4 linked regions of the Homo sapiens genome follow. The protein of the gene in region 3 interacts with the protein of the main gene of each other region in a pairwise test. Each region holds a gene or a part of one and is shown on either strand. Other genes may lie near its edges.

What was found.
Region 1: the proteins of SNX11 (region 3) and REEP6 interact in binary tests that used the Homo sapiens proteins (3 or more experiments, as listed by UniProt).
Region 2: the proteins of SNX11 (region 3) and NECAB1 interact in binary tests that used the Homo sapiens proteins (3 or more experiments, as listed by UniProt).
Region 4: the proteins of SNX11 (region 3) and SMYD1 interact in binary tests that used the Homo sapiens proteins (3 or more experiments, as listed by UniProt).

What each region holds. Positions count from the first base shown.
Region 1 is NC_000019.10:1,486,743-1,494,192, forward strand, and holds the start of REEP6 (receptor expression-enhancing protein 6), read left to right. Parts: upstream 1-4,438; 5' UTR 4,439-4,527; coding exon 4,528-4,642; intron 4,643-7,450. Other genes in the region: PCSK4 (proprotein convertase subtilisin/kexin type 4), read right to left, coding at 111-323, 399-571, 861-949, 1,043-1,119, 1,222-1,350, 1,446-1,538, 2,851-2,931, 3,051-3,155 and 1 more. UniProt on the Homo sapiens protein: Required for correct function and survival of retinal photoreceptors. Required for retinal development.
Region 2 is NC_000008.11:90,913,752-90,920,781, forward strand, and holds part of NECAB1 (N-terminal EF-hand calcium-binding protein 1), read left to right. Parts: intron 1-3,740; coding exon 3,741-3,877; intron 3,878-7,030.
Region 3 is NC_000017.11:48,110,766-48,117,795, reverse strand, and holds part of SNX11 (sorting nexin-11), read right to left. Parts: exon of another isoform or gene 7,029-7,030; intron 5,766-7,028; 5' UTR 5,753-5,765; coding exon 5,711-5,752; exon of another isoform or gene 5,703-5,710; coding exon of another isoform or gene 5,685-5,702; intron 5,223-5,684; coding exon 5,136-5,222; intron 4,496-5,135; coding exon 4,395-4,495; intron 1-4,394. UniProt on the Homo sapiens protein: Phosphoinositide-binding protein involved in protein sorting and membrane trafficking in endosomes. Regulates the levels of TRPV3 by promoting its trafficking from the cell membrane to lysosome for degradation.
Region 4 is NC_000002.12:88,063,304-88,070,824, reverse strand, and holds the start of SMYD1 (histone-lysine N-methyltransferase SMYD1), read right to left. Parts: upstream 3,001-7,521; 5' UTR 2,961-3,000; coding exon 2,824-2,960; intron 1-2,823. UniProt on the Homo sapiens protein: Methylates histone H3 at 'Lys-4' (H3K4me), seems able to perform both mono-, di-, and trimethylation. Acts as a transcriptional repressor. Essential for cardiomyocyte differentiation and cardiac morphogenesis.

The sequences.
Region 1 (7,450 bases), on a different chromosome or scaffold from region 3:
TTTCAAAGCAGCTTTGGGAGGGTGCTAAGTCACAGTGGTGGGGACAGGAGGAGGCCAGGCTGGGATGGCAGGGCCTGGGGAGGGGACCCTGTTGGGGCGGCTGCACTCACGATCTGGGGGTCGGTGGCCACGCCGCTGCTGTAGGTGGTGGTGAGGGTGGAGGCGCAGGCTTCGCTGTACCAGGGCACGCGGCCCTGCTGGGTGGTGCTGCCCACGGAAAGCGTGTGGATGCTGTTGGTGTAGCCGTCGCAGTTGCAGTTGTCGTAGTGCAGGCCGCCGTTGCCCGAGGCCCAGATGAAGAGCGTGCCCAGCCCGCCGCGGCCCTGGGAAACCAGGAGGGGCGGGGAGGGGGCGTCGGCCTGGCCTGCCACCCCTGCCCTCCTCGGGCTGCCACTCACCTTGGTCACACCACGCCGGAAGGCCTCGCGGGTGAGGATGCCGGGGCCGTCCACCGTGCGGCCGTCGTCCTCGGGACCCCAGCTGGCGCTGTAAATGTGGATGTGCTGCGGCTGCAGGCTCAGCGACTGGGCCTCGATGACATCGGTGATGGTACCGTCCAGCATCCGTACGCCTGCAGAGCCAGGGCGGGAGGGCCGCTGCCACCGGCCCTGCCCTTCCCCACACCCCAGCCCGCCCCGCGCCACTCCACACCACTCCCCAGCCCTACCTGGGCCCTCTCTCTGCTCCCTGGAGTGGGACCATTCGTATTGGCTCAGCACCCCCCAAGCCCTGGAGTCTGGGGCCCTAGCACCACCCAGCAGTGAGAGGGTGGGCTCCCGAGTCCTTGGGCCCAGCTCCCCGCCAGAGTCACCCCCTTCCCTCTCTGTCCCGGAATGGTGCCGCTGGGGGACCCCGGGTACCTCCGATTCGGGCGTTGAAAGCGACCCCCACACCACAGAAGCCATTGTTGGCCATCGCGGCCACCTCCCCAGCACAGCGGGTCCCGTGCCTGGTGCCAGGGCCAAGAGGGGCTCCTGTCACGGCCTCCATCCCCCTGCCGGGTACTGGGGCTTCCCCCGTGTGCTGTGGGAGCCCTGCTCACCGGTTCTCTTTGCTGGGGGTGTAGCGGGGCTGGGGGTCCGGGTCGTAGTCATTGAAGTCATAGCTGGCCAGGGGGTCCTGGGGGCAGGTGGGGATATGAGGGGGCCGGGAGGCGTCCCTAGGGTGGTGCCAGCCTCGGCACCTGGGGCAGCCCTCGCCCACAGCCACCCGCGGTCTCACGTAGTTGGCCCAGAGGTCCGGGTGGTCCTTCTCGATGCCATCGTCCAGCACAGAGACCACGATGCCCTGGCCTGACAGCCCCTGACTCCAGGCCTGCAGGATGCTCAGGTCTGGTTGGGCCTCGCTGTTCTGCAGGGGGAGGCGGGGTTGTGACCCTGTGAGGGCCTGGAGTTGAGGGCGCCAGCGGCCCCGTCCCCGTCTACCCACCCTGGCTGCCTGCTCACCATGTACCACTGCTTGGAGAACCAGGGGTCCGTGGGCACCACGACAGAGCGTTTCACCCGCCGCTGCAGCGTCTGCTGCTGGAACCACTGCACCTGCAGAGCAGAGGGTGCATCAGGCCTGTCCCCTGCTCGCCCCTGGGGCCCCTCGTGGTTCAGGGAGTGAGGCAGCCCCGTGCCCTGGGACCCTGTGTTTGTGGGGGTTGCTCTCCAGGGTCCCCATGTGCCTGGGGCTCTGTCTGCAGTCGGAAGGGGTCGAGGCTTTTGGACCACCTGTCCTTGGGCCCACAGACGCGTCGTTGCTGCCGCGGGTGACTGCAGGTCCCCGGGTCCCCACCCCACTCTCTCCCCCATCCCTGTTCTAGATCCTTCTATCTCTCTCCTGCATCACTTCCTTATTTTTTTTCTTTTTTTGAGACAGAGTCTTGTTCTGTCGCCCAGGCTGGGGTGCAGTGGCGCAATCTTGGCTCACTGCAACCTCTGCCTCCTGGGTTCAAGCGATTCTCCTACCTCAGCCTCCCAAGTAGCTGGGACTACAGGCGCACACCACCATGCCCGGCTAATTTTTGTACATTTAGTAGAGATGGGGTTTCGCCATGTTGATCAGGCTGGTCTCGAACTCCTGAGCTTAAGTGATCTGCCTGCCTTGGCCTCCCGAAGTGCCGGGATTACAGGCATGAACCACCACGCCAGGCCTGGCTTCTCTCTTGCAAACCACATCAGGAACTGGCCACTGCTCTCCCTCCCGGTGCTGTAAGCAGGCAGCTGTCCAGTCCTGTTCAAGGCACTTCCTGGCCTCCGAGGGCTTCCCAGGCTCCATCCCAACCCCTCAGCTTGACATCCCAGGCATTTTCTAGACAGGGCCCAGCCCGATGGGACCCAGGCCCCTTTCTGAGCGCCTGGACACTGCGTCCTGAGGGCCACTGGGTGACTGTAAGCCTCCTACTTTTTTTTTTTTTTTTTTTGAGACGGAGTCTCGCTCTGTCGCCCAGGCTGGAGTGCAATGGCGCGATCTCGGCTCACTGCAAGCTCCGCCTCCCGGGTTCACACCATTCTCCTGCCTAAGCCTCCTGAATAGCTGGGACTACAGGCGCCTGCCACCATGCCCGGCTAATTTTTTTGTATTTTCAGTAGAGACAGGGTTTCACCGTGTTCGCTAGGATCTCGTCTCGATTTCCTGACCTTGTGATCCGACCGCCTCCGCCTCCCAAAGTGCTGGGATTACAGGCGTGAGCCACCGCGCCGGGCCAAGCCTCCTACTCTTTGGAACCCATTACGGTGTCGTAAAATCCCCTTCCCTCCATCCCATGACCTAGACGGTGGGGAAGTCACGCCGTCTGTCCCTCCTTACCAGAGCCCCTGGGGCCCAGAGGAGGGAGGGGGAGGACAAGAGGTGCCCACTGTGTACCAGGCCCTGGCAGGCGCCATGATTTCCGTATCTGGGTCTTCCTGCCTCCTCTTGCTGTATAGACTTGGGGCCCGGGCGGGTCTGAGCCACAGAAAGCACACAGCTGTTCATAACAACCACGAGAACCACAGAAGATGGCTGGTGGCCCCAGGAGGCAGCTGAGACCCCGGGCAGGGGGTTGGCCTCCAGGCCAGGCTCACCTTGGGGTTTTTCTTCAGGTGCAGGCGGTGGCCCCAGTGCGGGGTCAGGGACTGCTGGACCACGCCCCGGTGCCGCAGGTGAAAGTACTGCCCGTCAGGGAAGATCTGGGGATGTGGGGAAGCGGCCGCACCGATGGGACCCGGCTCCCCTGCTGAAGCCCCCGAGGGCCGGTAACAGCCCCCTTCTTTGTCCTTCCCCAGCAGGTGCTCTCTGGGAGTCCCAGAAGCTGAGCTTGGCTGAGGCAGGGGTGGGCTGGGACTCTTGATATTTAGAAGACCTTGTGGGCTCCCTCCCCCTTGTCGGGGTCTAGGGTTGTTCAGTCCCCTCCAAGCCCCCACTTCCCGTCTATCCCGGTCCCACCCACCGGCCCCAGGTTGACGAAGCCGAATTTGCGTGCCAGGCGCTCGACCTCCCGGTTACCCTGGGACACCTGGACGGCCCAGCTGCTGACATAGATGGGGGCTCGGACCGGGGCCCACCCCACAGCCCGGGGGCGGACAAGGGCCAGGGCCAAGACCAGGCGCAGCCACAGCGCAATCGGGGCGGGCCGCATGGAGGCGGGGCGGGAGCGGGGCCTGCGCAAATCCCCTCCCTCCCGCCAAACCGCCGAGTGGGCCCAGGCGTCCGACCCGCCCCCGGCGCCATAGCAACGCAGAAGGCTTCGACTCCCAGGGGGCCTTGCGGCTACTCAGCCAGGAGGGGCGCGAAGATCTAACAGAAGCGGGAGAGGGACGCACGCCTGCCCGTCTTCCGCAGACCCACACCCTCGGGAGCCTCAGTTTTCCCATTTGTACAACGACAAGACTAACCCAGAGAAGCGGGTTCACTGTTGCGATAACGCGTCCTACCCTTTGTTTGACCTCTCCCACTTTCCAACACACCCCTCCTTCGAGAATCAGCCCGGCCTCCTGTCCGGCCTAATCAGAATCATTCTTTTGCGTAATCCCGCCTCCTCCGATAAGCCTCGCCCCGTTCCCGCCCCTACCATTCCGCCCTGCCTCCTTTGTGATCAGCCCCGCCCTCCACTGGTCTCGCCAATGAATCGCGTCCCGTTTCTCCAATCGGCTCGGATGTTTCTTTAGCCCCTCCCCCCGGTTCCGCCCCCCCACGCCTCTCCTCGCCCTGGCTCCACCCTTCAGCCAATAATCCCATCCTCTGACACCGCCCTTCCAATCAGCTACGTCTCGCTCCGGCCCGGCCAATCGGTGCCCTGGGCCGCCGCGCCCCGCCCTCTCCCGGCGGGGTCTGGGCAGCGGCGGCCGTGGCGGAGGGCTATGCGGCGGGGGAGACGGGGCAGGCCCCTCCTCCTTTGTCCGCCCTGCCCTCCCATTGGTCCTAGCGGGGGGCCGGGGGCGGACACCGGCGCGGGGCCGGAGCATCGCGGCTCAGGCTGCGGGAAAGCGGTGCGCGTGCAGCGGGGTGGGTGCCCTGGTCCGCGGGCGAGCTCGAGCAGCCAACCCCGGGCGCGTCGGGGCCATGGACGGCCTGAGGCAGCGCGTGGAGCACTTCCTGGAGCAAAGGAACCTGGTCACCGAAGTGCTGGGGGCGCTGGAGGCCAAGACCGGGGTGGAGAAGCGGTATCTGGCTGCAGGTGAGCCGTCGGCGCTAGCCCGTTTCGCCGACGGGCACACCGAGGCCATGGGCCTGGGGGTCGCAGACCGGACTCCTTCCCCGGCTACGGGGTCCGGTCCGGCCGGTGGAGCGCGCGAGGTGACTGGGACCTCGAGGTCCGCCCGCAGCCCTTCCCTTGCCCGCGCCCTGCGACCCTGCTCCCGGGCCACCCCTCTCTAGCTTCCGCCCCTGGCCGCCCCCCGACGCCTCCTTCCGGGCGCTGGGTGCCTGCCATGCCGAAGTCCGGTTCTTCCAGTTGCCCAGTGGCCCCAGAGGGGTCGGGATGCCAGTGTCCTGCGCGTTTCGCCGTCCCCCTTCCCCCGTGGACCCCGGCCTGGCTGCAACAGTAGAGATCTTCCCGTTTTTCTGAGGGGAGGCTCCTGGCGGGAAGGGGAACGGACCGTCCTGGGGGCCTGCCCAGGACCCTTCTCCTTTCCTCCTCCTCTCCTGCCCTAGCTCACCTTCCCCCAGCTCAATGGCTTAGTGCCACCGAGCGTAAATGTTTGTTAAGACGGAGTTGGGTTGTCTGACGGCTGTGATGTGGGGAGGCTGGACTGGGGCCCACAGAGCCGGAGATCCAGGCACCCCGATTGTGACTCCATTACAGTTCTTCCGTGACTTTCACCCTTGGTGACGCTGCGCGCCCCTTCCCCTTTCCAAATCTCTAGCAAGAGCATGTAGTAAACGCTCCTTAAATGCCTCCCTCCCCACCTTTAAAACTTTTTTTTGAGACCGAGTCTTGCTCTGCTGCCCAGGCTGGAGTGCAGTGGTGTGATCTTGGCTCACTGCAACCTCCACCTCCTGGGTTCAAGCGATTCTCCTGCCTCAGTCTACCAAGTAGCTGGGATTACAGGTACCCACCACCATGCCCGGCTAACTTTTGTATTTTTAGCCGTTCAACATGGTGAAACGGGGTTTCACCATGTTGGCCAGGCTGGTCTTGAACTCCTGGCCTCAGGTGATCTGCCCACCTCGGCCTCCCAAACTGCTGGGATTACAGGCATGAGCCACCTTGCCTGGCCTAAAACTTTTTAAAATTAACTTTTTTAAGAGACAGGGTCTCACTATGTTACCCAGACTAGTCTTAAACTTCTGGGCTCAAGCGATCCTCCTGCCTCAGCCTCCCAAAGCTCTGGGATTACAGGTGGAAGCCACTGCACCCAGCCTTTCTTCCGTTTGTGTGGTGCTCCCAGCCCCACTGGCTCTGCCTTCTCTTCCAGGAAGCTCCGCAGAATGACTCACAAGGACTTGCTCTGGGCCTGGGGTATTCTGGGTAGAGGACAGTGCCACTTTTTTGAGCACCTTCTGCAGGTGGATCCCAGGAGTCCAGTTCCCCCCCAATTTTCCCACCATCTGGGGGTTCCCATGCCAGGCAGCGCCAGAACAGTCTGAAGTCTGTGCCCACACCCTGGAGGTCCCCAGGTGCCTGGTCCCATGTGCAGCGCAGCAGGTGGCATGGGCATGGCCCGGCTGTGCCTGCCCCCGGGAGCAGGTCCCTGACCTCTGCCCTCCCTTTCCACATCCCTGGGGCTAGTGGGCAGGAATTTAGGTCGTAGAGCGCCCAGGAGGCAGGCAGCAGGGAGGGGCTGCCTGGGGCACCGTGTCACCAGAGACGAAACTGAGGCACAGGGAGGCAGGGGCTGCCTCTGTGCCTGTTCTGTCTGAAGCATACAGTCCTCCACCCTGCCCACCCCCAGTCCCATCTGCTGCTAATCTTGGGGGCTGGGCCTCCCTCCACAGTTCTGATGTCCAAGGTCATCCTCCCGTCGCTGAAGCTGCAGGAAAAGGGATTTAGGGGAGGGACGCCCTGGGAGAGTCATTCCTCCCCACGAGCCAGGCCCGGGGAGAGATGGCAGTCCCTCATCCCCATCTCCCACCTCCTTTAAATTGACAAATCCCACACCCCTGGGTAACATACGAAGAAACTCAGAGGGGACAGTGACTGGGAGGCCACTCCTGGGACCAGCTGGGGGACTCCTCCTACCCCTGACCTTGGGTGCTTTTGGATAAAGACTAAAGCAGGTGGGAGGGGCTGGGGGGACTTGGGCCTCTGCCCTTTGGTCCAGAAGTGGCCTCTATCTCACTCTGCAGATAGCAGCCCCAGGGGAGGAGGAAGAAGGCTGTCCAAGCTCTCTGGAGCACATAGGTTCCCTGTGTGACCTTGGGCAACACCCACCCACCCCCAGTTTTGGCTGTTGAATAATTCAGGAAAAGCACAAAACCTGGCACACAATAGGCGCTTAATAAATGCAGCTGTCGTAGTCATTCTTTTCAGAGCCAGGTTCAGGATTGGGGCTGAGCTGGACACACACACACACACACACACACGTTTTTCTCTGAACACCCTCCTTGCTGGGACTGTGTTATAGTTGCCTGAAGGCACTTAATAAATGTGCAGAAAGGCTGATGGCGGTGGCTCACGCCTGTAATCCCAGCAGTTTGGGAGGCCAAGGCGGGCGGATCACCTGAGGTCAGGAGTTTGAGACCAGCCTGGCCAACATGGTGAAACCCCGTCTCTACTAAAAATACAAAAATCAGCTGGGCATGGTGGTACGCTCAGCTACTCAGGAGGTTGAGGCAGGAGAATCACTTGAGCCTGGGAGGCGAGCTTGTAGTGACCTGAGATTGCGCCACTGCACTCCAGCCTGGGTGACAGAGCAAGACTCCATCTCGAAAATAAATAGAAATAAACGTGCAGAAAGGCGTTCTCTCTGTTAACTTGTAACCATAGGAGGCAGGGGCCATTACTACTCCCACTTACCAAGGGGGAAACTGAGGCTCCATGCAG
Region 2 (7,030 bases), on a different chromosome or scaffold from region 3:
CTGCCTTCCAAAGGAACATCTGCTGCATATCTGAGAAAAGGGAAGGAAGATTGGATCTGTGCCACCCGGGTCTGCAGTCTCAAACCTTGAGATCCAGAATAAGGGAAGGGAAGGAGACTAACAAATGGTCCAGAAAATAAAATGAGGACAAACAGTCTGTTAGAACAAAGCTGTATTTTTCTTTATTGCAGAGCCCACATGACTGGGCAAGTCGGGTGGTAATGTCTACAACCAGCAAGGGCTGGATGCAGGGGGAGGCAGGTGGTGACCAGCCAGTGGCAAGAGTACTTCCCAGAGCTTGGACACTCCCTCTGGTGCCTGACTCTCCATGTGGGACCCGGTTTCTCACACATTTCTTAAGCATTTATGGGGCAGCTGCTATGAGGCAATTTTGTTCTGAGTACTCTGGAGGCAGAGATGAATAAGACATAATCCCTGTGCTTAAAGAGCTAGCCTAAAATGGGGAAGATAGACAAATGAACAACAGATCACAACATCACAATGAAAAATTCTACATCCTATGAAAAATTCTATATCCTAGGTAGGGAAGAAATGTCACAAAAATACATAGAAGTGGAAAGATGTATTCCTAATCCTATGAAGAGAAGTGGTGGTTCAAGGAAAGGAACATCTGTACAGAGACAGTGTTACAAGCTGAGTCTGGAAGGATAAGTAGGAATATTAGAAAACAAGGTTTTTTTCCTCCTTATCAATGAGGGGTAGTATAAAACAGCAAACCTTCATAATTGACTCAAAAAATTTAATCCTCCAAACCTTAAACCCACCCACCACCCCTCTCAATTTCAAGGCATCAACATTTATATCAAAGAAATGTATCAACCAACTGGGTTCTGCCACTTTTCAATGTTACCTACAGAGTCACTAGTAAGGTTATCAAACTCTCATCAGAGTGAGATAAGAGGGTTAGCCTAATCATAACTTTCTGATTTGCTATGGTGGAGCAATGATGAGTGGCCAGTTGTCTGACTTTAACTTTTCTTAATTATCTAACTTTAACATCATCAAAATATTTGTATGTAAGATCACAATAGCAAATGCAATAAATTCTTAGAGTTAGGAGTGTATCTGCAAACTATCAGGTATGAATGAACCTCTACTCCACCATAAGGGATACAGAAATAAAAGACATGACCTTTCTGTCAAAGAAGCTGAAACCTAATTGCAATGACTGGAATGTTTAAAATGACTAACTATAATTTTTTAATCTCTTTTCTATAATTCTGACATGGCAAATATTTAACATTTAAATGAGAAAAGAGTAAGGACAATGCTATGCTTTATTGCTCAGTAAATGTTTGCTTTCTTCATTTTTCAATGCAGTCTACAAATAAGTATAAAACTTTTTATCATTTGCTTTATATTAGTCATAGTATATACTGAGATGCGAAAATAGTTGGTATAATCCCTGACTTTGCAATTATATTTTATCTTCATTTTAATAAATTTTATTTTTTAAAATATCCATTGGTGATATGGAAATAACTGTGGGAAAAGACTCAAACACACCTTTTTTTCTATCATCACATTTTCTTTCAACCTCAAAGAAAAGCCTTCCTCAATTTTAAAAACTCATTCAGAGAGAATTTTTTGAAGTTTTTTTTTAACCAATAAATAGCAAGCTATGAGATCAAATTAAATATTTGGAATATTTTTAGCTTGATTTAACTCACCCAAAACTCTTAAGATTATTATAAGCATGTAATGGTTATGTTTAGTTTACGGTTAGTTTCTTAAATGGAGTTTAAAGACATTGCAATTTTTAATTTTTAAATAGGACTATTATATATGGTAGATGTATTGGTCAGGGTTCTCTAGAGGGACAGAAATAATAGGATAGATGTTTATATGAAGGGAGTTTATTAAGGATAATTGATTCACACCACATGATCACACAGTAAAGTCCCACATAGGCCCTCTGCAAGTTGAGGAGCAAGGAAGCCAGTGGTGGATCAGTCTGAGTCCCAAAACCTCAGAAGTAGGGAAGCCAACAGTCCAGCCTTCAGTCTGTGGCCAAAGGCCTGACAGCCCCTGGCAAACTACTGGTGTAAGTCCAAGAGTCCAAAAGCCAAAGAACTTGGAGTCTGATATTTGAGGGCAGAAAGCATCCAGCACAGAAGAAAGATGAAGGCCAGAAGACTCAGCAAGTCTGCTCTTCCATCTTCTCCTGCCTGCTTTATTCTAGCCATTCTGGCAGCTGTAGTAGTTGGTACCCACCCAGATTGAGGGTGGGTCTGCCCCTCCTAGTCCACTGACTCAAATGTTAATCTCCTTTGGCAACACCCTCACAGACACACCCAAGGACGATACTTTGCATCCTTCAATCCAATCAAGTTTACACTCAATATTAACCATCTCAGTAGATAAGAAAATTTCCTGTGTTGTTCACCTGTAATGAATGAGCTTAAAAAGAGGCTGATGATTGAAACTTTTTACTATTTCAAATTGAGAAAGAAATGAGATTTTCTATGCTATTACATTATTCTTCTATTAGAAAAACTTCCAAAGTAAACTATATCAGGAGGCCATAGTCCAATTCTTCCTAAATTAAAGTTGATAGAAGCACAGAATATTTTTGAGTTGGAATGTATGCCAGAGTTACTTAGTGATTTATAAGTGGGAAAACTGAGAACCAGGAAGGTTAGATACCTAAATCTTACTTGTTTGGGTTTATAACTATGCCCTAAGCTTCTTCAGCATATCAGGATCCGTGGTATTGTGTTATCACCCTCAGTCGTTTTGTGTTTTGTCTTTTCAGCCATAAAAAAATTTTGTTTAGGGACAGAGACAAATAAATCTTTTCCTTGGCTGAACTTGAATGTACCATTTCCACTCAAGATTCTAGAAAATCAGATTTCACTGGCTGGTCCCATGATCTGAAAGAGTGGCCCTGTCACCATCTTATTCCACACCAACCTGGTTTTTGTTGTTGGTTCTCCCTGAGACTTTAGGGAGACAAGCACAGCAGGTGGTACCATCCACAGCTCACCCATCTACCTTGAGTAAGCTTGGCAAGTACACTTATTCAGTCTGCAGTGACCTCTGCAGTGACCCTGGGGCTGTTTCAGTGAATGCTGCTTTTGTGGCTCAGGTGTTGTCCTAGAAGTTAATTGTCAATGAGCCTCAGGTAAAGTTACTGAAGGAAAGACATAAGCAGATTTAGTAAACCATTTAAATACTCCAATCCTAACATTTTCTGAATTTTAAATAACTACACATAATTTTCTTTGTCTTCAGCATAATACGGATCAAGCATAATAAATACATCAAGAGTGAATTAAGCCAATTGCTGAAACATGGTTGCATTTTGTTGGTAATAGTGAAAATATATGATGGCGTGGTCAACATTCAAATGAGACATAGAACAAACCCTGAGTTAGTCACATTCTGATCTTCCCCCTCCGCCACCGGATATTTATTTTTTCTTTTCTACAGATGTCTATTTTGCAACTCTGCTGGTTTTGTCCTTTTTCTTAATCTTGAGGCAGGTATATTGGGAGGCAAGATATTCCAGTCATTTCTGCAGCTTTTTTATTCATCTCCTGGTGGGTGGATGAGAGTGATGCTGTAGCCTCCAGGGCTCGACAGATCTTTTCCCTTCTCTCCACCCTCTCTCTCTAGGATCAATCTGGGATTGATGGGTACATGGTAAAAGAAAAAAAAAAAATCCTGGGTATTTTTTTCTACCATACTTCTAATTGCATTTGTTTTGTCACCCTTAGGACTACCAAGAAGCCTCCAATTTGGAACAATTCGTAACTAGATTTTTATTGAAGGAAACCCTGAATCAGCTGCAGTCTCTCCAGAATTCCCTGGAATGTGCCATGGAAACTACTGAGGAGCAAACCCGTCAAGAAAGGCAATTTACATGTTTTCATCTGATGTCTATTTAGTGACTCTATGTTCATGAAAAAACAATTGAGAGGCATTGTACTTACACTAGCAAAAACTAAAAAAGAGAATTGATATATTTAAAAAGAATGACAGTGACCTCCACTGGTTGCTTGCCTTATTATTTGCCTCTAAAAAGACCATTCTACTTTTTCTTTTACTGTCAGTCATTTAGTAAACTATATATATATATATATATATATATATATATGTGTGTGTGTGCGTGTATATATATGTCTGTGTGTATATATATACACACACACACATATATGTGTATGTGTGTATATATATACACACACACATATGTGTGTGTGTGTATATATATACATATATGTGTGTGTGTATATATATATATTTCTTTTTTTTTGAGATGGAGTCTCACTTTGTCACCCAGGCTTGAGTGCAGTGGCACGATCTTGGCTCACTGCAAACTCTGCCTCCCGGGTTCAAGCAATTCTTGTGCCTCAGCCTCCCAAATAGGTGGGATTACAGGCACACACCACCACGTCCAGCTAATTTATTGTATTTTTTAGAAGAGACGGGGTTTCACTATGTTGATCAGGCTGGTCTTGAACTCCTAACCTCAGATGATCCACCCATCTTGGCCTCCCAAAGTGCTGGGATTACAGGTGTAAGCCACTGAGCCCAGCTGAGTCAACAAATTTTAATTGAAAATTTAGTAGATGGAGAAGACTTTAAAGTATTATGAATAATATAAAGATACATTTAACATAATGTCAATCCTTAAGGAAGCCTAAGTCTATCATATAAATAAGACATGAACACAAAAACTATACTGCAAAGAACAAAGTGATAATAAATACCGTAGAGAAGAGGAAATACATTGCCAATTGTTTTCAGAATATTAAAAGATTAAATATGGATAGAGGGATGGAAGGATGAGAAAGTCAATTTCATGGAGTTTCTCTATTTGAGCTTGTCTTGCAAAATCAAGAGATCAGTGAAAAAGCCTGGTGGGAAGACAAGACTTGAACTGGACCTGTAGGATGAATTTGAATGGCAGAATGAGAGTCTCTCTAGAGGGATCCGTCTCACCCACCTCCTGTTACCCACCTCTCATGTGGCTCACTTCTCTTTGGTTGTCTGGTCACTGATTGGACAGTAATTTCTCTGGGAAGCCTTCACTGCTCATTCATACCTCCCACTTCACTACCGTGTATTCCTATAGTGCCCCCTATTTATATCTACTTATCTCAACCCCTTCCTTGTTAATTTGGTGTAATTTTGAAAATGTGGAAATGATGGGAAAGACCCTTACAGACTACATGAACCTGGATATACTTGGGAGACCTGATAATTCAGTAAGCCTAATTATTTCAGGAAATGGAGAAAAGTGAATGATGGAAATTATTTCAAAATTCAATGCCACCAATAGGTATCACTGAGAAAATAAGTAGTCATATTGCAATAGCTATATAAATAAAGGCACTAATGCTTAAGAGACACCTATACTAAAAATGTGTAGGGCACACATCAAGGTGATCCCAGCCAACAGTTGATATTTTTCTGAGTTGTCATTGCTTATACTTTGCAAGCTAGAGAAGCTTGCAAAACTCTTGCTCCTGGGGCATATTTTGGCAGATGTGTTACTTTAAACTTATAGATGTGCTTTATCTAACTTTTACATCTTAAATTAGAGAGAAGGAAACAGTAAGTTTTCTGAACAGGCTGATAATAGACTACCCTGCAGGACCAATTTTCCTGAACAAATTAACTGATACATAATTATTAGGACATCTCCAAAATAGTGGAATTTTCAACCATGTGTTTACAATGTCAAAATGAGTGAGCACCACCAACTTCTAACAAAAAATCCTGTAATTCCAGAATCTAATGAGCCCATGCAGCTGACTGTCACAGGGAAGTACTCTTTAGCAGATCTGTGAAGCATCCTCTACATCATAAACTTCCTGTTTTCACTGCGTTGGGTGATTCTATACCAAATGGCAAAGTATAACAATTCACTTTAGAAAAGCAAAACCCACCTCCTCAGCTTTGAGCAGAGGATAACTGAATGTCTTGAAGCACAGTGAAATGGATTTCATGTTCCTAATGAGAAAAATGAGGCCTCCTGTGTTGTTTCTTTTGTTTGGACTTTCTGGAAATAAAATGGGAACTCCCTTTTTAGAATCAGTCATCTGCCACCTGAGAAGAGGCTTGAAAAAGTGCTCTACTCCCCTTCTTCACCTGCGCTTTTGTTTTTTTCTACAGTCATCCCCTGAAAACCTGTGCTCTGCATTTACCACCATGCTGTGAATGTTTAATGAACAACTGTTTTCTGTGTTAGGCCACAGGCTAGCCTTGAACTCTTGTGACTGCTGCCAGCAGCTGCCTAGCAGCTGTGCTTAATGAGAAGGAGCATGACAATATAGACTTTAAGGAAAGTAGAAGGCACTAGAGGATTAACGAACCTTTTACTTCTGGATTTCTCACTCAAAAACAGCTTCAAATAATGGGAAATGTTACATGTCTGACTGCAGTTTAAGGGGTGCTGTTGTATGGCATTTGACTAAGACACCCAGGAATGACAAAATCCCACCCCAAATCTGTGATATTCCCCCTGAGAGGTTTATAAAGAAATGCATAAACAAGCAAACAGAAAATAAGGTACCACTATGGATTTATGCCCGTAATATCTGATGAACCAGACTGAAGCACGTGAATTATGCCCAAACCTAAAGGGACTGTGTCTCCTCTCCCAAGGCTATATCTTCCTATCAGCTGGCCACCAAAAGTGAGGAGAGCCCTGGGACCTTCATCAGTGAGGAAAAGATAGAGAGAGAAAAACTATACCTTTCCTATGATGTCAATCAAGAGACCAGTGAAAACGCCTGATGGGAAGACAAGACTTGAAGTGGAACTTTAGGATGAATTTTAATGGCAGAATGAGATTCTCTCTAGAGGGATCCGTCTCACCCATCTCATGTTACCCATCTCTCATCTGGCTCACTTCTCCTCGTCTGTCTTGTCACTGATTGGACAGTACTTTCTCTGGGAAGCCTTCACTGCTCATTTATACTTCCCACCTCATTACCATGTATTCCCATAGTGCCCTCTATTTATATCTACTTATCTCAGCCCCTTCCTTGTTTATCTCCCC
Region 3 (7,030 bases):
CCTGGCCTCAAGTGATCCTCCTTCCTTAACCTCCCAAAGCACTGGAATTACATGTGTGAGCCACCAAGCCGAGCCACACTATGTTGTTTATGAAACCCACTCCCAGCTTGGTGCCATGGTTCATGCCTGTAATCCTGGCACTTTGGGAGGCCGAGGTGGGCAGATCACTTGAGCTCAGGAGTTCAAGACCAGCTTGGGCGACATGGTGAAACCTCATCTCTCCTTTAAAAAAAAAAAACAGCCAGGCGCGGTGGCTCACGCCTGTAATCCCAGCACTTTGGGAGGCCGAGGTGGGTGGGGATCACGAGGTCAGAAAATCGAGACCATCCTGGCTAACACGGTGAAACCCCATCTCAACTAAAAAATAGAAAAAACTAGCCGGGCGTGGTGGCGGGCGCCTGTAGTCCCAACTACTCGGGAGGCTGAGGCAGGAGAATGGCGTGAACCTGGGAGGCGGAGCTTGCAGTGAGCTGAGATTGTACCCTTGCACTCCAGCCTGGGCAACAAGAGTGAAACTCTGTCTCAAAAAAAAAAAAATTAAATAAATAAATAAATAAAAATAAAAATACATAATTAGCCAGGCGTGGTGGCACATGCCTGTAATCCCCAGCTACTCGGGAGGCTGAGGCAGGGGAATCACTTAAACCTGGGAGGCGGAGGTTGTGGTGAGCTGAGATCAAGCCATTGCACTCCAGCCTGGGCAACAAGAGCGAAACTCCATCTCAAAAAAAAACAAAAAAGAGAAAAGAAAAGAAAATTAGTAGGGCATGGTGGTGCACCCCTGTAATCCCAGCTACTCAGGAGGCTGAGGAAGGAGAATCACTTGAACCTGTGAGGTGGAGGTTGCAGTGAGCCGAGATCGTGCCACTGCAAACACTCCAGCCTGCAGGATGAGACAGGAGCAAGACTCCATCTCAAAAAAAAAAAAAAGGCCGGGCGCAGTGGCTCACACCTGTAATAGCAGCACTTTGGGAGGACAAGGCACGTAGATCATGAGGTCAGGAGTTGGAGACCAGCCTGACCAAAATGGTGAAACCCCGACTCTACTAAAAATACAAAAATTAGCCAGCCGTGGTGGTGTACACCTGTAATCCCAACTGCTCAGGAGGCTGAGGCAGAAGAATCCCTTGAACCTGGGAGTTGCAGTGAGCCGAGATTGCACCACTACACTCTAGCCTGGGTGACAGAGCGAGACTCCGCCTCAGAAAAAAAAAAAAAAAGGAAAAAAGAAATCCACACCCACCATCAACTATTATTTTTAAAAAGGAAGAAACTGGAGTGGGACGCAGTGGCTCACAACTGTAATCCCAACAACTTGGGAGACTGAGGTAGGAGGATCACTTGAGGCCAAGGAGTTTGAGAGACCAGCCTGGGCAACAAAGTGAGACCTTTCTCTACAAAAAATACAAAAATTAGCTGAGCATGGTGGCACATACCTGTAGTCCCAGCTACTTGGGAGGCTGAAGTGGGAGAATCCCTTGACCCCAGGCGTTTGAGGCTGCTGAGGCTCACATTTTTTTGTAGTTGTTGTTGTTGTTTTTGAGACAGTCTCGCTCTGTCACCAGGCTGGAGTGCAGTGGCACAATCTCAGCTCACTGCAACCTCTGCCTCCCAGGTTCAAGCAATTCTCTGCCTCAGCCTCCTGAGTAGCTGGGATTACAGGCACCTGCCACCACACCCGGCTAGTTTTTTGTATTTTTAGTAGAGATGGGGTTTCACCATCTTGGCCAGGCTGGTCTTGAACTCCTGACCTCATGATCCACCTGCCTCAGCCTCCCAAAGTGCTGGGCGTGAGCCACCGCGACCGGCAGAGGCTCACTTAGCTAAGCTCTGTCTCAAAAAAAAAAAAAAAGAAAGAAAAAGAAAAACAAAACAAAAAAAAAACAGGCCAGGCTGGAGGATATAGGATTTGTCAGGGGAACGGAGTTTCACCTGGTTTATTAGGGCCTGCCCCAGGACAACAGCCTCATCAGTTCCACATGTTAACTAACTGACTTGGTCACTCAACAGGCCACCTATCACCACTGAGTATTCAGTGACCATCCTACAGCAAAATCACTGTTGTAATTCTCTCCACTTTCAGGACTTATTTGGCAGGTGGGTGTGAGGAGTAAATAATAACTGCCTTCCCTAGGCTCTCATATGTCTCTGGAAAAGGACCTCTGTATTAAAAGAGAAAAAAAAATCATTATTTTTACATGTGAAGTGGATGGAAACACTAGCTGTCAAATAAGTCCAGGTGCTTAAAATTTTCTGATAAGCAGATTTAAACTGTTTAAAATGTTAGCTGTATATTTGTTGAGCTCTAGACATATATGCATATAAAGAAAGAAAAATATTTTTGATGTTAGTATGGCTTTGTTAGGTAAAAATACTCGAAATTAGATTCTACTTTTTTCACTGACTTGAAAATATGATTTAAGAACATATATCTGGCCGGGTGCGGTGGCTCACGCCTGTAATCCCAGCACTTTGGGAGGCCGAGGCAGGCGGATTGCCTGAGGTTGGGAGTTCGAGACCAGCCTGGCTAGCATGGTAAAACCCTGTCACTACTAAAAACACAAAAATTAGCTGGGCGTGGGGGTAGGGACCTGTAATCCCAGCTACTCGGGAAGCTGAGGCAGGAGAATCGCTTGAACCCAGGAGGCTGAGGTAGCAGTGAGCCGAGATCACACCATTGTACTCCAGCCTGGGCAACAGAGTGAGACTCCGTCTCAAAAAAAAAAAAAAAGAAAAAAGGCGGAGCATGGTGGCTCACGTCTGTAATCCCAGCACTTTGGAAGGCCAAGGCAGGTGGATCATGAGGTCAGTTTAAGACCAGCCTGCCCAGGCTGGGCGCAGTGGCTCACACCTGTAATCCTAGCACTTTGGGAGGTGGAGATGGGTGGATTGCCTGAGCTCAGGAGTTCGACACCAGCCTGGGCAACGTGGTAAAACCTCATCTCTACTAAAATACAAAATAGTCAGCCAGGCGTGGTGGCAGGCGCCTGTAATCCCAGCTACTCGGAAGGCTGAGGCACAAAAATTGCTTGAGCCTGGGAGGTGGAGGGTGTCACTGCACTCCAGCCTGGGCAACAAAGTGAAACTCTGTCTCAAAAAAAAAAAAAAAAAGCAAAAAAAACCCAGCCTGGCCAAGATGGTAAAACCCCACCTCCACTAAAAATACAAAACATTAGCTGGGCATGGTGGTAACCCCCTGTAATTCCAGCTACTCGGGAGGCTGAGGCAGAGAACTGCTTGAACCCGGGAGGCGGAGGTTGCAGTAAGCCGAGATTGTACCACTGCACTCCAGCCTGGGCGACAGAGCGAGACTCCATCTCAAAAAAAAAAAAAAAAAAGAAGGCCTGGGCATGGTGCCTCACGCCTATAATCCTAGCAACTTTGGGAGGCTAAGGCAGGCAGATCACCTGAGGTTAGGAGTTCGAGACCAGCCTGACCAACATGGAGAAACCCCATCTCTACTAAAAATACAAAATTAGCCAGGAGTGGTGGCGCATGCCTGTAATCCCAGCTACTCAGGAGGCTGAGGCAGGAGAACCTCTTGAACCCGGGAGGTGGAGGTTGCGGTGAGCCGAGATCGCACCCAGGCAACAAGAGCAAAACTCAGTCTCAAAAAAAAAAAAAAAAGAACATATTTCCCAGCCAGGAGTGGTGGCTCACGCCTGTAATCCCAGCACTTTGGGAGGCCGAGACAGGTGGATCACTTGAGTCCAGGAATTTGAGACCAGCCTGGCCAACATGGACAAACCCCACCTCTACTAAAAATACAAAAATTAGGCAGGCATAGTGGTGGGCACCTGTAATCCCAGCTACTTGGGAGGCTGAGGCAGAGAGAATTGCTTCAACCTGGGAGGTGGAGGTTGCAGTGAGATGAGATCATGCCACTGCACTCCAGCCTGGGCAACAGAGCAAGACTCCATCTCAAAAAAAAAAAAAACATTATTTCCCAGCCGGGCCTGGTGGCTCACACCTGTAATCCCAACAATTTGGAAGGCCAAGGCAGGAGGACTGCTTGAGCCCAGGAGTTCAAGACCACCCTAGTAACATAGGGAGACCTCCATCTCTACAAAAATATTTTCCAAATTAGGCAAGTGTGGTGGCATGCACCTGTAGTCCCAGCCACTTGGGAAGCTGAGGTGGGAGGATTGCTAGAACCCAGGAGGTTGAGGCTGCAGTGAGCCATGATTGCACCACTGCACTCCAGCCTCTGTAACAAAGCAAGACCCTACATCAAAAAAAAAAAAAAACCCAAAAAACAAAAAAAGAAACAACATATTTCCCAATTTCCTTAGTGCCTGGTATGTTGCAAGTTCTCTTCATTGTCAACTCCAGTTCCTACATAAGCACCCAAAAAGCCAGTCACAGACCCAAGAAGGAAGCAAGAGCAAACTCACACCAAACCAGCATTTCTCTGTAGCTGCTTTCTCAGCCACACGAACTCACGGTAGCGGCGCCGCACACAGGAAGTCTTGGCAGTAAAGGCTTTGCTGTTGGTCTATACATGAAAGCACATGAAGTACATGAAAAGGGTTTAGTGGAAATAGACAAGTTCACATGAGCTCCCTATCATTGCTTTCACTGAGGAGCCATGCCATCAGGCCACAGACCTGATCAGGTCCCCAACTAGAACAAGGTGCCACCAGGCAGCCCAAAAGCAACTCAAAGACATACCTCAAGCTCTCTTTCCTTTCCTCCCTCCCTTTCTTCTAAGTCTTCTGTCTCGGGTCCACCAGAAACACTCAAAAATAGGTTACACCTTGACCTGCACGGTGGCTCACGCCTATAATCCCAGCACTTTGGGAGGCCAAGGAGGGTGGATCACTTGAGGTCAGGAGTTCAAAACCAGCCTGGCCAACATGATGAAACCCCATCTCTACTAAAAAAATATATATTCAAAATTAGCTGGGCGTGGTGGCACATGCCTGTAATCCCAGCTACTTGGGAGGCTGAGGCAGGAGAATCACTTGAACCTGGGAGGCGGAGGTTGCAGTAAGCCGAGATCACACCACTGCACTCCAGCCTGGGCAACAAGAGCAAAACTCCATCTCAAAAAAAAAAAAAAAAGGTTACACCTCAGTACAAGCCCCTCAGCCCTGCAGAGCGCTGACCCCAATACAGAAGCTTGATGTACTCACATGGAGGAATATCTTATAATCCACATAAGAGTTCCAGGAGCCCTCATTCTGCACTCGGGGGTCCTGAACACGCACTGTAATCACCTCCTGTAGGTAAGAAAAGCTCCCTCAGCTTCAGCTACACAGCAAGGCAGCTCTGACAACACAGGTCGCTAGATTTTTCCACCCAACACCAACTTTCATTCACTCAACACCAACTTTCATTTATTCAATTCAACTTTCATTCACTCAATTCAGTCACTCAATTCAACAAATTTTTACTGAGCCCCACTACGTGTCAGACACTGTTATAGGCACTGGGGATAAAGCATGAACAAGAGACGTAAGTGCCTGCCCCCATGAAGCTTACATTCCAGTATATTCCAATCAAAGGAAAATTTAGTCAGAATGGAACCCCAATTTCCTAGGAATGCCTCTGCTGTTGATTTCTTTCTCCTGACTTTATTCTGAGCTCATCAGAACCACCAAAGTAATACTGCAGGTAATAATTAATGATTTGCATCTCTATGTCCTCTTTCCTCCTAAATCCCCTCTCCAACTTTTACCCACCTGTTCTCTGCAGACCATACTCTTACCTCCTGTTCTTGGTTCTCCGACATCCTACACCAAAAGCCCATTGGAAGGAAACATCTGATGAGGGACAGAGGATACAGGATCAAGGTTAGTATGCCTCTGTTCTTATCATTCTTTACCAGGGAAAACCCCGAAAGTTTTTAATAGACCCCCGTGGGGAAACCCAGGCAACACTTTTTGTTCTTGTAAAACTTAAGAGGAAGCAAAAAAAAAATCCCCATTAGCTCAATGCCAAGCTAAAAGGCCCTGGGGGATTTGCCTCCCTTCTCAGACCAGGCCCTCAACTAGGCCACCTCTCCCCAAAGCGTGTTGGAGTCTACAGAAAGTTTGTCACACGCAGCCAGAACAGGCGGGTCCAGATGTAAAACTTTTGCCTTGAAGAATGCAGGCACAACAGGGTCTGGTGAGCACTCACATCACAGCATTTTTTTTTTTTTTTTGAGGCAGAGTTTCACTCTTGTTGCCCAGGCTGGAGTGCAATGGCACAATCTCGGCTCACCACAACCTCTGCCTCCTGGGTTCAAGCAATTCTCCTGCCTCAGTCTCCCGAGTAGCTGGGATTACAGGCACGTGCCACCACACCCAGCTAATTTTGTATTTTTAGTAGAGACGGGGTTTCTCCATGTTGGTCAGGCTGGTCTCGAACTCCTGACCTCAAGTGATCCGCCCTCCTCGGCCTCCCAAAGTGCTGGGATTACAGGCGGGAGCCACCACGCCCTGCCAGATCACAGCTTTGAAAGCGAGCCTAACAGCACCCCCTCCCGGCTGTTTAGAGACAACCAAGTCCCCACAAACACCAATGCTTCTGCATTTCTCCCAGTCTCACTAACAACCAGTCAACTCCCCACAGGTGAATCATAGAGCTAGAGCACTCCAAGGAGCACCTGAGTGGGTTGCCCAGTTGGGACCTTCCCCTTATCCAATCCATACTCTGGAACCCGAGCCAATTGTTCTAATTACTTCCTCTCCTGACATGCCATCCGGTTTGTACTTCTGTCCAAGCACCCCACAGCTGCACAGGTCGACTCAGGATGCGTTCTGCTCCTTTGTAAAGATTCATTAAAGCCTCAGCCCCTGATTTTCCCCAATGTGGCAGTTCACGTGTATAGCGACATCACCCACTCCGACAAGGGGACCATGAAGGCTGCAGCACGGGGTTACTCAAGTCCAATGGGGCCCATGATGTCACCTTCTGTTAAAATACAGCACTAATCTTGTTACTTCTACAACTATTCCAACAGCATCCACCCTGGCTGCCGCCTGCACCCCCTTCTCTCTTAAGAGAGAAACAATAAGGTTTAATTTCCCTTTCCAATTTACCT
Region 4 (7,521 bases), on a different chromosome or scaffold from region 3:
ATTACAAGCACCTGCCATCATGCCTGGCTAATTTTCGTATTTTTGTAGAGACAGAGTTTCACCATGTTGGCCAGGCTAGTCCTGAACTCCTGACTTCAGGTGATCCGCCCGCCTGGTTCTCCCAAAGTGCTGGGAATACAGACATGAGCCACCACACCCGGCCAAAACTATTATTTAAAAGGCAGTAGAATATACAACACAAAACCTAGGATAATTACCTTTGGAGCAGGCATGCAACAGGATAGAGAAGATGTAACATATTGGAATATTCTAGTTAAGTTGGTTTGGTGTTGATTTATTGCTATGCTTTATATAATATATGTTAGAATATATACAATATAACATATAATATATATGTTAGAATATATAATACACACTGTTTGAAAGAATTAATTTTCATTTAATGCAGTGCTCAACTAAAAATAAAATCTTTCTCCACATTTGTGTGGAAGAGTAGGAAAGCCTGTCTTGCAGTAAGATGGATTAAAACAAGCCAGTTTTGTACAGTGACTTTTGTGGGTGACTCAGTCCCACCTCTGCAATCAAGTTTCTCATCTATGGTGGCTGAGCCTCACCAGGAGCCTAAAATGCATAAAACTTTCCTTTAATGCCTCTTTGGGCTGTCTCTGGTATAACCAAAGAAAGCACAGCTCCCTCATCTATGCAGTGACAAGTTTGGGTAAAGCATTTTTTGAAAAAAAAACTATCTCTTTTAGATTTTTTTTCAATCATTTTAAACGTCATTTATACCAATTATCCCACTTTTATTACCATTGTAAAAATAATATATGATTTTATGTAGCATTTATCTGCAATGTATATGAAGGTGTTTTTATAGTTGTTACTTCAAATGAATGACAAATTATTTATAATAACAAAAACATGGAAACAATCCAAATGGCCAGTCATCAGCAGGTAATAGAAGAAGACGTAGCCCTTAAGTACTATGTCTCTGAAGAGTGTATAATAGCACAGAAGATGTCAAAATTATTAAATGAAAAAGCATAATAGCTTGTATAATGAGTATATTACAGCCAAATGAAACCTATGTTTTAAAACAAACCGAAAATAGATACCCAACATGTTAAGAGTGGTTATCGCTGTGTGATGTCTTATCTTTCTAAATTTTCTAAAATGACAATGCCTTGCTTTTATAATGGAATGAAAGCCCATTCAACTTTAACCTTCTTGAAATGGAACTGATTGGCTAGATTGACTTTGGGGAATTGGAAGCAGCAAATGGAGATGTTCTTCACAAGGCCAGGCAGTAACTCACTGGCAGCGCCAGAATTAGTGTTGACAGTCCCTGTGTTTCTGGGTTGTTTTCACTCTGAATCCAGCTGGCTCCCTAACTGTACTCACCCCTCCCCTGACACATACACATACACACACACAGATTAATGAAATAAGACAAGCTCCCCCTGAAAAAGTCACCTCAGCCCCTTATTTTCCTCAAGTGGTGGTGAGCCATATGCCCCAGTTCACACCCTTTTCCCTGAAGGTCTTAGTGGGCAGGAAGACAAGAGAATGTGAATACTAATCAAGTTATCTGTGGGAAGCAGTGCCCTTTCCCAGGGTGGTCAGTGCAGCCAGCCAACCACAAAGCCTAGGTTATCAGACTCAAACCACATAGATGTCAAGCAGGTCACCCCAACCTTGATCTCAGAAAATATTGACAATTTAATGTAATCACCATGTAGGTTTGTTTAAAATGAAGATTTATTACTAATTTAAAAGCTTGGTAGTCTAGTGTGGCCAAGGTCGTGAGGAAGCGGGAATGTAAATTTAATAGAGCCTGTTTGGAGAGCCTATAAAACTGAAAACATCACATCCTACGGCCCAGCAATTCCTCTTCTAGTCCTGTGCCCTGGAGAACAATCGAACATATGTACAGGTAGACACGATCAAGGATTTTCATTTTATTTCATGAAAAATTAAAAACTACCAATTGTCTCTCAATAGGGGAATGGATAAATAAAATGTCATATATTTATAGGATGAAATATTTAAAATTAAGATTGATGATTCATATGGCATATGAATCTATATGGATAGCTCTATAAAGGAAATAGATCTTTGGAATTTAAAAGAAGTATCTATAGATTTAAAGTTCCTGCAAGGATAGACATCAAAAACGTGTTGTTTAGGGAAAAGAGTGAGTTCTAAAATGACATCTGAAGTATGACACCATTTCTGTAAAAAAAAAAAAAAAACCAGACAGACTACAGCCATCCATCTTGTTAAGTGCAGATATATGTATGTAATAGCACAGGAACATTCTAGAAGGAAATACATTGAAATAATAGCAGGGGTAATATCTGAGGAAAGACAGAGGGGACTGGGATTGGGTGATACTCAGATTTTTCAAGGGAAAGTGGATTCCTGGGTTATTCATAATTATAAATATACAAATAGTTCATAATTTTTAAAGTCTCAGCAATTACTTTATCTGGTAATGTATTTATAATAAAAAGAAAGCTAAAAATATAGAGCTTTCTGTCGGAAAATGTTTCCCACAGCACCACACCCACCTTTCCACTCCCAGCACACCCTCTCAGCCAAGTTGGCCAGTATTGGGAGAAAGTGCCCCCGAAGCCTTTGCTCACCTTCACCACCCTTCTAGGAGCCACAGCAAATCACACTGGCAATGATCCCTTGCAGAAAAATTTGTGCCAGAAAAATTAGCTCTCAGAAGTGCCATTTTGTTGAAAAAAGAGCACATGAATTTTATCCCTTCCCCTGATGATTTTTGAGAGCAAAGTATTTTAGAGTTTGGCCCCAGCCAAACTAACAGGAGAGAAGGCAACTCCCCACATTTCATACCTGTCAAAAACCACTGCGGAATAAGCCCGCTCAGCAAAGATGATATCTGCAGCCCAGAACTCCTTGGTGGCCTTCAGACCCCTTCCTTTGCCCTCAGCGGTGAAGACCTCCACGTTCTCCATTCTCCCTATTGTCATCTCAGAGACTGTCAGGCCAGCGCGGCAGTTATTTAACACTGAGCCAAGTCTCTTGTCATTGCTATTTCAGCACCTTCAGCATCCCAAAGAGCAAGACTATAAATGGACAAGCCACCTCCCCTTCCCTACTCGCTCTCAGCTACTGGGCCCTCACCTCCCCCTCTGCTACTTTTCCTGGAGGTGGGGATGGGACAGACAAGAGAACAAGTGAACTGGGAAGAGTTTCATTCATCACCCAGCAAAGCCGACAGAACAGAAAATGACCATGGGTTAATATGGCATAGGGCCTGAAAAGTTTTGAGAGGTTCCATTGCAAGCAGAAGCTATCTGTATGTGCTAAGTTCTGAACTGCAACAATCCTGTTCGGCTTTAGTTGGAGTAGGGAACATTTGGTCAGGAGGGTATTTTTAGCAGCCAGATGCCTCTGTCAATCAAAAGCAGACAGCTGGAATGGTCCCATAGAAACAAGGTGATATTTGCTGCTCTGGGACCCTTCAGCTGTCAGGCTTGCACTTTCTCAAGTGAGATGGGCCCTCGCCCCACCCTTTTCAGTCTCTCTCCCAAGGGTGGACTGTTTAGCAGCAGAAGCTAAACTGAGGGCTGGGCACGGTGGCTCACGCCTGTAATCCCCACCTTGGGAGGCCGAGGCACATGGATCATCTGAGGTCAGGAGTTCAAGACCAGCCTGACCAACATGGTGAAACCCCGTCTCTACCAAAAATACAAAAATTAGCTGGGCGTGGTGGCGGGCGCCTGTAATCCCAGCTACTGAGGAGGCTGAGGCAGGAGAATTGCTTGAACCTGGGAGGCAGAGGTTGCAGTGAGCCGAGATCGCGCCATTGCACTCCAGCCTGGGCGACAGAGTGGGACCCCGTCTCAACAAAAAATTAATAAATAAATAAATAAATAAATAAATAAATAATAAGAAGAAGCTAAACTGAGCCCTTGGCATATACGTAACAGTACTATTTAGGCTCCAAGGGGGCATTTTTCCTCTCCAGTATCACCTGGGGCTCTTACAGCACCCCCTACTCCACAGCATGGAATTCCCTGTTCTTAGCACTGCTGGTGATGCTGGTATGCTGGAGGCAGGCTGGATACAGACAAGGCAGGCTATAAAAATAGCAACCCCCATCTCTATCTTTCTATCAAATTTCCTTTAACATGTGTCTGCTGCCAGGAAAATACCAACGTGCTCTGTCCTTCTTCTTACTCAGGAGTGAGGACACTGGAAAGACGAATCTAAAATCCCCGTTGAACTAAATGCCACTGTTCTTGGCTATCAGGCAGCTTTTACTGAGGTTTAAAAGAAATACACTTGCAGATCTGGAGCTCTGGCTTGACTTCCATGTAAGATTTTTAGTTCCTGGGATGCATCTATTTCCTGGTGGGGGTTGGGGGTGGGGGTGACGGCGGGGGTGGGGGGCAGTGGGCAGGGGCATTTCCTGGATTTTTCTGAGTGTATGGTTTCTGAGTCAGATGAATCTGAGTTTGAATTCTAAGCCTGCTACTACCACTTGAGATGGAACCTGTGAAACAAGGGTGATAATTTCTACCTCACTGGATTGTGAGAGTTAGATAATATGTAAAAGGGGATAACACAGCACTTAGCACTTCATAAAGTACTCATTAAGTGATAGCTATTCTATTTTATTTACTCTGTCACATTATCCTCCCTAAACTATCACGATGTACCAGAAATTTTAACATGTCTTCAACCAATTGAATCTCCCAAAACACCTTCGACTCTTGGAAGCATGTTGAAAGTTCATTGTCTGATCATATATCCTGATTTTTAGGTAAGAATACATAGCCATGACAGCAAGAGAATATCTCTGCAGCTTCTGATGTACACTGAAGAGCAAAATAACTTAAGACATGTAAAGTTAGGTGCCTCAAAAAGTAAACACTGCATGCTCCCAAGGGGAAAAACAATTCTACAAAACAGAGAGTTAAAAAAAGAGAAAGAGGCCGGGCACAGTGGCTCACGCCTGTAATCCCAGCACTTTGGGAGGCGAGGCAGGTGGATCACAAGGTCAGGAGATCGAGACCATCCTGGCTAACACGGTGAAACTCCGTCTCTACTAAAAATACAAAAAATTAGCTGGGCGTGGTGGCCGGCGCCTGTGGTCCCAGCTACTGGGAGGCTGAGGCAGGAGAATGGCGTAAACCGGGGAGGCAGAGCTTGCAGTGAGCCAAGATCACGCCACTGCACTCCAGCCTGGGCAACAGAGCAAGACTCCGTCTCAAAAAAAAAAAAAAAAAAAAAAAGAGAAAGAAGGCCAGGCGCAGTGGCTCATGCCTGTAATCCCAGCACTTTGGGAGGCCGAGGCGGGTGAATCACTTGAGCCCAGGGGTTTGAGACTAGCCTGGGCAACATGGTGAAACCCTGTCTCTACCAAAAATACAAAAAATAAACCAGGCATGGTGGCGCATGCCTGTAGTCTCATCTACTCAGGAGGCTGAGGTGGGAGGACCACTTGAGCTCATGAGGCAGAGGTTGCAGGGAGCCATGATCATGCCACTGCATTCCAGCCTGGGTGACAGAGCAAGATCTTGTCTCAGAAAAAAAAGAGGGAAGGGGGGGGGGGGAGGGGAGGGGAGGGGGGGAGGGGAGGGGAGGGGGGAGGGGAGGGGAGGGGGGGAGGGGAGGGGAGGGGAGGGGAGGGGAGGAGTAGCAGAGCAAGCTCTTGTCTCAGGAAAAAAGAGGGAAGGGGAGGGGAAGGGAGGGGAAGGGAGGGAAGGGAAGGGAGGGGAGGGGAGGGAAGGGAAGGAAAGCGAAGTGAAGGGGAGGGGAGGGGTTTTCAGGAAAGGAGAGGAGAGGAGAGGAAATATTAAAAAGGTTTTTTCCCTGTAATCCCAGCACTTTGAGAGGCCAAGGCAGGCAGATCACGAGGCCAGGAGATTGAAACCATCCTGCCTAACATGGTGAAACCGCGTCTCTACTAAAAATACAAAAATTAGCTGGGCGTAGTGGCACACGCCTGTAGTCCCAGCTACTCAGGAGGCTGAGGCAGGAGAATCACTTGAACCCAGGAGGCGGAGGTTGCAGTGAGCCGAGATCATGCCACTGCACTCTAGCCTGGGTGACAGAGCGATACTCCATCTCAAAAAAAAAAAAAAAAAAAGGTTTTTTTCAATCCAGGTTGACTCCCAATGAATACCCTGTATCCACATTGCCTGGCAACTCAGGGTCTTGCAATAACTTGTCTGCCCTCAGGGGCCAGGGGCTCAGCCTGGCTCAGATGAGCTTGTTCCCTAGACTAGGCACTCTTGGAGCAGGTTCAGCCCAAGCCACGGACAAGGAAGAAATTTACCAGCCCCAAGACCATATGGAGAGAGGAAGCCCAGGACTTTAATTATACCTGTGGGCCTCAACCTTATCAGAACAATGGTTATTATATTATTAAAGGGTGGTAGACAGAATAACAGGCCCCAAAGATGTGCAGATTCTAATGCTTAGATCTGTGAATATGTTACCTTATATGGCAAAAGGGACTTTGTGAATGTGATCAAGTTAAGGATCTTGAGATGAGAAGATTATCCTAGATTATCCTGGTAGGACCAATGTAATCATGAGGATCCTTATAGGAGGAAGGCAGGAGGGCCAGGGTCAGAGGAGATGCGACAATGCAACCAAGAGGGTCAGAGTCAGAGAGATATTGAAGGGGCTGTGTTGCTGACTTTAAAGATGGAAGAAGCGGCCATGAGCCAAGAAACTGGAAAAGGCCAGGGAACAGATTCTTACCCTAGAACCTCCAGAGGGAACACAGCCCTGCGGACCTTGATTTCAGCCATGTAAAGTCCATTTCTGGCTTCTGACCACCAGAACTGTAAGATAATAAATTTATGTTCTTTAAAGTCTCTAAATTTGTCATATTTTGTCACAGCAGCAATAGTAAATATAGTAAATATTTACTATATTAGTCTCATTATAGTAAATATTATGTAACATGCTTTTTGTTACTTTAAAGTGAAATTCTTACATAATATAATTTATTCGTTCTTATACCTAAGAAAAATGACTAGTCTAATCTAACAAAGGTGAAAGAAAATCAAAGTTAATTTGTAGTAATATCTATTTATTGTAAATTAAATGTGTAAATGTGCTCACTATGCATATGCTTGGGTACAACTATATTAGAAGATGAGATAAAATGGCTAGATGTTTGTACCTCTAAGTGGAATCACTATGATAGTGAGAACAAAAATGCAGATTGATTTTGAGGACACAAATACCATATTGTTGCCTGTGACCATAATTTTCTGAAATGGTGAGCGACTCTTAGGGGAGTTCTAAACAAAATAAAGTTTGATCTTTCTTTGGTTAACAAGAAGTTGCATTGCTGGAAAATTCAGCATATATTAAAACTTTACAAAAACTACTTTACGATTACTTACAAAATGGATTTCCAGACTCAGACAATCATAAACTGGCTTTTTGCCTACCTGAAGAGCACATACAGATATTTGAGGCTGTGCGGGGTGGGCAGAGAGTCTTCATTGTACCAGGCTGTCCCCTGCTTCTCAGGGGATCTAGCATCTCTGGCCAGGATTAAGG